Regions from separate parts of the Homo sapiens genome. Here all the other regions are linked to region 2. Evidence: fine-mapped expression QTL. A gene starts in region 2. Each other region holds a variant in brackets. All regions are shown on one strand. Distances are between the middles of the regions.

What was found. PIP is the estimated chance that this variant, and not a neighbour inherited with it, causes the effect.
Region 1: its variant is fine-mapped to the expression of CFAP46 in cerebellar hemisphere (GTEx, PIP 0.95).
Region 3: its variant is fine-mapped to the expression of CFAP46 in cerebellum (GTEx, PIP above 0.99). The same link has a PIP of 0.9 or more in cerebellar hemisphere.

What each region holds. Positions count from the first base shown.
Region 1 is chr10:132,800,280-132,803,031 of GRCh38, reverse strand. No RefSeq gene overlaps it. Among named protein-coding and RNA genes, the nearest start is that of NKX6-2, 16 kb to the right of the region's middle. The variant G/A (reference allele first, on the strand shown) is at 1,256.
Region 2 is chr10:132,941,312-132,944,063 of GRCh38, reverse strand. CFAP46 (cilia and flagella associated protein 46) reads left to right here and starts at 1,494. Exons shown (of 58, transcript NM_001200049.3): 1 at 1,494-1,628; 2 at 1,960-2,084; 3 at 2,342-2,473. The coding sequence starts at 1,580. LOC105378572 (a long non-coding RNA gene) reads right to left here and starts at 697. Exons shown (of 3, transcript XR_007062348.1): 1 at 1-697. LINC01166 (long intergenic non-protein coding RNA 1166) reads left to right here. Exons shown (of 2, transcript NR_120627.1): 2 at 1-97. RefSeq lists enhancers at 1,014-1,597, 1,598-2,181.
Region 3 is chr10:132,896,339-132,899,090 of GRCh38, reverse strand. It overlaps CFAP46 (cilia and flagella associated protein 46), which reads left to right. Exons shown (of 58, transcript NM_001200049.3): 24 at 1-132. Among named protein-coding and RNA genes, the nearest start is that of CFAP46, 45 kb to the left of the region's middle. The variant A/G (reference allele first, on the strand shown) is at 1,660.

The DNA.
Region 1 (2,752 bases), 140 kb after region 2:
CAGCCCCCCCCCCCACCAATATCAGGCCCTAGGAGAGGAAGAGCCCCGGGGCTTGAGACCACAGGACTCACTCAGAAGGGAGGGCAGCGGTCCCATCACAAGTAGCTTTGCTCTTTGGGCTGTAGGGGTCGCTCCCCTCCCTTCTCCGCATCGCTGAGCCCCAGCCCTGCAGGGACAGGGCCTGAGACTTCCCAGAACCCTGTGCCTCTCTCCCTGGGCCCCGTTCTTGCTGACTGAAGAAATGGGAGGGAGTCAGAGAACCAGGGTCCCTTAGTAACAGACCCCCAATTCCTGGCCGGGTGTGCGGCCAGCCTCCCAGTGTCCCTTAGAAATCTCACACCTGTAATCCCAGCACTTTGGGAGGCCGAGGTGGGCAGATCACGAGGTCAAGAGATCGAGACCATCCTGGCCAACATGGTGAAACCTGGCCTCTACTAAAAATACAAAAATCAGCTGGGCATGGTGGCATGCACATGTAGTCCCAGCTACTGCAGAAGCTGAGGCAGGAGACTCGCTGGAACCTGGGAGGTGGAGGTTGCAGTGAGCCTAGATCTTGCCACTGCATTCCAGCCTGGCAACAGAGGGAGACTCCGTCTCAAAAAAAAAAAAAAAAAGGAAAAGAAATAGACCCCCCATTCCTGGCCAGGTGCACAGCCAGCCTCCCTTGCAACACGTGTGGCCATTTGACTAAGTTCTGGTTCAAGACACCTCCATAAAAGGAAAGGCTTGCTCTTTTTCCTTCCTGTCTGCAGGATGGGATGGAATTTGATGGCTGGAGCTTGGCAGCCATAATGTGCTATGAGGTGAAATCTACATGTTGAGGATGGCACAGCCACAGTTGCGAGGAGCCTGGGTCCTCAGTGCTCTTGGGGTCAGAAGCTTCCTGTCCTGACTAGCTCGCCTTGGACTCCATAAACATGAGCGAGCAACAGCATTGCCCCTGGTTTAGTTCTCACCAGAGAACCTGATCCCGTGGACGCGGTGGGACCATAGGACCATATGGACCACGCATGGGGGCAGGGGTCCCAGAGTCGTGTTTCCCCCTCCAAGGCAGAGTCCTTGAGAGCAGGTCTGCATGGGCTTCGAGGGTGGGGCCTGGGCCTGCTGCCCCAGGCTGCTATGGTCCCATAATCACTTCCAGGGTTGACAGGTGTGGTTCCCAAGGCTGCTCTGTCCTGCTCATCGAGGAATTCCAACCCAGGCAAGAGGCCAGGCGGTGGGGAGAGGAACGAGGAGGACTGTGGACAGAGGACCA[G/A]CCCACGTGAGCAAGGCTGCAGAGGGGATGGCCCAGCAAGAGGAAACACGGGTTCTGTTCTGGTTACACAGCTTCCCTGGGGAGGCTGAAGGGCCCAGCCATAGCAGAGCCATGAATGTGGAAAGAAGAACCCGGCAGGGGTGTCTGCATCCCCATGGTGGAGAGACGTCCCCACCCCCATCTCAGATGTCCCCGCCCCCACCTCGGAGAGCCCCAGCCACCTGCCACGTGGGGCCTGCACAGCTACCCCAAGTCCAGGGTCTCTGATGTCCGAATGAGAGGTGACAGCGTGCTGGCAGTCCTCACAGCCCTCGCTCGCTCTCGGCGCCTGCTCTGCCTGGGCTCCCACTTTGGCGGCACTGGAGGAGCCCTTCAGCCCACCGCTGCACTGTGGGAGCCCCTTTCTGGGCTGGCCAAGGCCAGAGCCGACTCCCTCAGCTTGTAGGGAGGTGTGGAGGGAGAGGCGCCAGCGGGAACCGGGGCTGCGCGTGGCGCTTGCGGGCCAGCTGGATTTCCGGGTGGGCGTGGGCTTGGCGGGCCCCGCACTCCGAGCAGCCGGCCGGCCCTGTGCAATGAGGGGCTTAGCACCCGGGCCAGCAGCTGCGGAGGGTGTACTGGGTCCCCCAGCAGTGCCCACCCACCGGCGCTGCACTCGATTTCTCGCTGGGCCTTAGCTGCCTTCCCGAGGGGCAGGGCTCGGAACCTGCAGCCCGCCATGCCTGAGCCTCCCACCCGCTCCGTGGGCTCCTGTGCGGCCGGAGCCTCCCCGACGAGCTCCGCCCCCTGCTCCAGGGCGCCCAGTCCCATCGACCACCCAAGGGCTGAGGAGTGCGGGCGCACAGCGCGGGACTGGCAGGCAGCTCCACCTGCAGCCCCAGTGCGGGATCCACCGTGTGAAGCCAGCTGGGCTCCTGAGTCTGGTGGGGACGTGGAGAACCTTTATGTCTAGCTCAGGGATTGTAAATACACCAATTGGCACTCTGTATCTAGCTAGGTTTATAAACACACCAATCAACACCCTGTGTCTAGCTCAGGGTTGTGAGTGCACCAATGGACACTCTGTATCTAGCTACTCTGGTGGGGCCTTGGAGAACATTTGTGTCCACACTCTGTATCTAGCTAATCTGGTGGGGACGTGCAGAACCTTTGTGTCTAGCTCAGGGATTGTAAACACACCAATCAGTGCCCTGTCAAAACAGACCATTAGGCTCTACCAATCAGCAGGACGTGGGTGGGGCCAGATAAGAGAATAAAAGCAAGCTGCCCGAGCCAGCAGTGGCAACCCACTCGGGTCCCCTTCCACACTGTGGAAGCTTTGTTCTTTCGCTCTTTGCAATAAATCTTGCTACTGCTCACTCTCTGGATCCACACTGCCTTTATGAGCTGTAACACTCACCGCGAAGATCTGCAGCTTCACTCCTGAGCCAGCGAGACCACGAACCCACCGGGAGGAAGAAACTCCGAACACATCTGAACATCAGAAGGGACAAACTCCGG
Region 2 (2,752 bases):
AGTTTTAATATTTAATGCCCTTGGATTTGGGAAATCTCTTACTACATTATGTTTGGATATACTTTCTCTGAGGGGATAAATATTTTATCGAGGCTGTACCCATGTGTGGAGTGTCTTTACCAACAAAGGCCCATCTGAGAACTGTCTTTGGGAAGGAATATGGTCATTTAGCAGGGATCTGAGGCTGCCAACTTCAAGACGGGGTGGGGCTCTAGGAGCCTGAGAAACATACGACGTTCAGGTTTCAAAACTATGTCCAGGCAGCTTATTTGATCCCATGTAGGTATGGTGGCCTCTCCCGGGTGGAATTCCACTCTCCCAGGTGGGCCTCTCCCAGGCGGTCCTCTCTCAGGGGGTTCTCTCCCAGGTGGGCCTCTCCTGGGTGGAATTCCACTCTCCCAGGTGGGCCTCTCCCAGGCGGTCCTCTCTCAGGGGGTCCTCTCCCAGGTGGGCCTCTCCCGGGTGGAATTCCACTCTCCCAGGTGGGCCTCTCCCAGGCGGTCCTCTCTCAGGGGGTCCTCTCCCAGGTGGGCCTCTCCCGGGTGGAATTCCACTCTCCCACGTGGGACTCTCGTGGGTGGGCCTCTCCCAGGGGGTCCTCTCCCAGGTGGGCCTACCCCAGGTGGGCCTCCCCTAGAGCTCCCCTAGTGTGCCCACCCCGGGGTGAGTCCCGGGCCCTCCCCTCCCCAGGCCGACCCAAGTCCTTCAGTGGCTCCGGCTTCCCCGCGCGGGGGCTGCGCGCCCCGCCAAGCCTCCAATTCGGGTCGGTCGTAGGCGCCGTCCGGACCCCGGCCGGAAAGCAGCCCCGGCTGGGAGGTGGGGAGCCCCGGGGGGCAGGTGGCTGCGCTGCTACCCTCTCCGTGGGGGCCGGGGCTCTGCGTCTGCTCCTCCCGCCTCGGCCACCCCCTGCTGCCAGGTCTTAGCTCGTCCCCAGACCCGGCGGCCCCATCCACGCCCGCAGCCCGCATTTCCACTGCGCGACTTTCTGTGCCCGCTGCACTTCCAGCACCGTGGCAGGGGCAAATCACCGCCTGTTAAAGTAATGACGGAATGAATGAAAGAACGAAAGAATGAAGGAATGACTGACTGACTGACTGACTGACTGACTGAATGGATGAATGAATGAATGAATGAATGAATGAATGAATGAATGAATGAGCCGACGAGCGCAGGCGCGAAGGACGCAGTCGGAAGTTCCCGGGGAAGGTGGAGGGTGAGCCCGGGGTCAGGACCAGAACCCGGGCACACAGGAGCCCTGAGCGGGGAGAGGAGGCCCGCGCGGAGCCCCCGGCGTCCCCCCACGCCGCCTTCCCTCCCCTTTCTTCTTCCCGCCCCTCGCCGGGGGTCGCTGCCCTGGTGTCTCACTCCCGCGGAGCTGGCGGGGGGCAGGGCGGGGGCGCGGCGTTGTTCGCCTTCCCCGAAGTGTGGCCCCGCCGCCGACCCGTAGCCCCGCGTCCGCGTCCCTTTCGGTCTCCAGGCAACCGTGGCCGGGTCCTCGCGGCTGGAGAACCCAACCGACAGTGGGCGGCAGGACGCACCGCGGACCCCGGAGAGAGCGGACGAGCAGGGCGCCGGCGCCATGGACCTGGTCATCACGCAGGAGCTGGCCCGCGCCGAGAGCCAGCAAGGTGACCCCAGGCCCGCCACGACCCCCGCCCCGGGGAGGCCCCGGGACCCGCCACGACCCCCGCCCCGGGGAGGCCCCGGACCCTCTCATCCCAGCCCGCCCAATGGGTGATCCCTCGAGGGCCACAGCCGGAGCCCCCACCTCCCGATCGTCTGACCAGAGCAAACGTACAGGAAGGCGCCCACACCGCTGCTCCCTGGCGGCGACAGGTTCTGACGGTGGCTGTGGCCCGGGGGCCCAAGGCGGCTGCCTGGGGCCTTCGGGATGGCGTTGCCCGGCTCACTTCTCCCAGCCCAGTGACCAAACCTTCCTCAACCACCCGTTTGGGACAGATGCTGCGTCCTTGAAGAAGGCCTACGAGTTGATCAAATCGGCCAACCTAGGGAAATCGGAGTTTGACCCCTCAGAGAGCTTCAGCCCAGACCTGTTTGTTCTGTGTGCAGAGCAGGCCCTGAAGGTAACTAGTTCCCGGGATCCTCGGTCAGGGCAGCTTTGACAGGGAGAGGGAGGGCCTCTGGGTGTGCAGCGGATGCAGAGTGGGGCTGGGGAGAGGCAGCTCCTGGCCGGGCAGTCAAGGGGCCAGGATGGAGGATGGGGCTGGAAACAGGCTCCACCTGTGCTGGGGGCCTGTTCTGAAAGCGGGCCCGTGGTGCTTCTGGGCAGGGAGGCCACCCCTCCGGGTCTGTGATCTTCTGTGGTGGTGTTCTCTTGCAGATGAGGCAGCCAGAGGTGAGCGAGGACTGCATCCAAATGTACTTCAAGGTGAAGGCGCCCATCACCCAGTTTCTGGGCCGAGCGCACCTGTGCAGGGCCCAGATGTGTGCCCCGAAGTCGGCAGAAAACCTGGTGAGAGGCGTCCTGTGCCCCTTATCCCCAACAGTTCAATTTTCACCCCATCTCCAGAGCAATGCCAGGCTAGACCAGGCTTAAAATCGTTCTTAGGGTAGTAGAGTGAAGGAATTCCTTTCCAGAGTGACACGAAACTTGCACCATTTCCTGTCCATGCTTTTTGCTCAAGTGGTGATATCTGACACACAGGACCCCTGGACCTTTGCCTCGTAGCAGCGTGGTCTCTGTGGCATCTGCGCCTGCAGCTGCCCCGAGTGGGCACAGGGGAGCTGGGGT
Region 3 (2,752 bases), 45 kb after region 2:
GTGATGCTGGCCGCGCGGCATTACTGGAACGCCTGGCTCCCACTGCTGTCCTCAGCCGTCTACAGGAAGAAGGCCAAGGGTGCCCTGAAGAGGCTCATCGGCATCATCAACAAGACAGAGGCCAGAAAGCAGGTGCACCAGCCCTGGAGGGGGCTCCTGACTCCCACTGAGGCCTCTAGTGGGTCTTCCAGAAAGGACCGGAGAGACTCCCAAAGAAAGACAGACCCCACAGGCCTCCCAGAGGGTGCACCAGCACCAGCCGAGGAGGGGAGGGGGTTAAGGGGGGTCTCCAAGTCCCAGCACTGCGGGGGCCCCTGCTGGACTCGGTGCTCAGACCTGACCTCTCCCAGCAACACACATGCACCGAGGGGCTCTCAGCCCTGGAGACACACAGCAGCGGGTAGAGTGAGGCCAGCACAGTCCCTGCCTTAAGAGGCTTGGATTCTAGGCAGGGAGGACAGGCCCCACCTGCCATGAGAGAGGGTGGCCCTGAGAACAGCAAGCAGAGGGCAGGGCAGGGGGCGGGGGCTGGGCCACAGGTGCCTCTGGCGGCTTAAGGCAGAGTGGGGTGGCGGGGAGTGGAGCCCCCAAGGCCCAGGGGATGGGGCAACCCAGGGAGGACGGTTGAAGGAGAGGGGCCAAGTGGACCCAAGAGTGCACCTCCTTCTAGGGCTGTTGGAGGGAGGCTAGGCATGGGTCCTGGAGTGGTCCTGCAGGCCTCTCCAAGAGCAGGAGCCTGGCCAGCTTCTCGCTGGGCACAGACTGGCAGGACAAGCCTCAGCCTTGTGGACTGGGCTTCCTGAGCAGGCGCTGGAGTTGGTGAAGGCTTCGTGCTCCTGGCTCACAGGTCTGTGGATGCAGCTCCCTGCTGGGAGATGGGGAGGCATCCCGCTCCTCCTGGAAAGAGGCTGAGACTCTCGGGTTGGGGTCAGTCTCCAGACCAGGGCTGAGCCAGACCAGCCCACTCTGAGCTCTCTTCTGCTGGCCTCAGCTGTAACCAGGAATCAGGAGTCAGCCACAGAGAACCCACAAAACGGGGCCCTTCTAAGAGAAGCAGAGCTGCATAACCCAAAGCTCCAGTGGGAGGAGGAGGACGGGAGTGGGGCACCAGACAGCAGGCAGAGACAGTGGGTGCGGCTACAGAAGCCGCTGCGCTGGATCCTCAGATGCATGCCCAAGGCAGCTTCTTGGCCTGACTTTGAAAAGGCTGTGTCGGGGCCTCTGGGCTGTCCAGCCCACCCCAGCCTCTCTCCCCATGCTGGCCTCCTCCGGGGGACTGCCTCCTCATCCAGTGTGGTCTAGGCAAAGGGACCCTCCTCGGCTGGCTCCCCCAGGAAGCCTGGGTCTGAGCTCTGTGCAGAGCTGCCTCTGGAGCCAGACTGGAGAGTACGGAGGCAAGCCAAGGCTGCTCCACCTGGCCTGCCGACCTGCCAACCTGCCAACCTGCCAACCCACACATGGCCATCCTGTGGGCCAGATGCAGCTTCCTGGCCCCAGGGCTTAGCCTCCCACTGGCGCTGCCCAGCACATTTTCTGGCTGCCCAGGAAGACCAGAGTAGATTTTTACTGCTTGTGACCAAGAGTCCTGGCTGACCTAGATATGCGGTTCCTACCAACCTGCGGTGTGCGGCGGGGCCTGTGAAGGGAGAGCCCACGGAC[A/G]GTGAGGGCCGTAGCAGACGGAGGTTCATGCCAGAGAGCCTCAGGACAGAGCCTGCATATTAATCCCTCAGCAGATACCTGATTTGCAAGTATTTTCTCCCATTCTCTGGGTTAACTTTTCACTCATTTGATCATGCCATTTGATGCATAAATGTTCCTAATTTTTAAGAGGTTCAGTTTATCTATTTTTTCTTTTGTTGCCTGTGTCTTTGGTGTCATATCCCTGGTCCTGCTACATCTAATACCATGAGGATTTTCTCCATTATTTTCTTCTAAGAATTTTGTAGCTTTAGCTCTTAAGTTTAGATCTTTGATCCATTTGAGTTAAGTTTTGCATATGGTATTAGGTAAAGGTTCAACATCAGCCTTTTCCATGTGGATATCCAGTTTTTCCAGCACCACTTGAAGAGACTGTGCTTTCCCTAGTGAATGGTCTTGGCACTGTTGCTGAAAATAATTTGACCAGAAATGCAGGGATTTATTTTGGGGCTCTCTATTCTATTTCACCGGCCTGTATGGTATCATTTTGCCAACACTATGCTATTTGAGTCACTGTAGCTTTGTCATATGTTTCCAAGTTGGGAAGTGTGGGTCCTCCAACTTTGTTCTTTTTCAAGATTGTTTTAGCTGTCTGGGGCCCCTTGCAATTCCATATGAATTTGAGGATCAGTTTTTTAATTCCATATGAATGTGAGGATCATTTTTTAAAATTATATATATTTTTAAAAAGACTATTGTAACCCATAGGGATTGCGTTGAATACTGCTTTGGGTAGTATTGACATTTTAACAATGTTAAGGCTTCCTATCCATGAACATGGTCTATCTTTTTGTTTATTTAGATCTTTAATTTCTTTCAGCAACCTTTTATAGTTTTTAGCATGTAAGTCTTTCACCTCTTTGGTTAGATTTATTACTAAGTATTTAATTTTTTAAGGTGCTGTTATAAACAGGAATGCTTTCTGTCTTAGCTTGGGCTGCCATAACAAAATACCATAGACTGGATGGCTTAATTTATTTATCAAAGTCTGGATCTGGAAGTCTGAGATCAGGGAGCCAGCGTGGCTGGGTTCTGGTGAGGAACATCTTCCTGG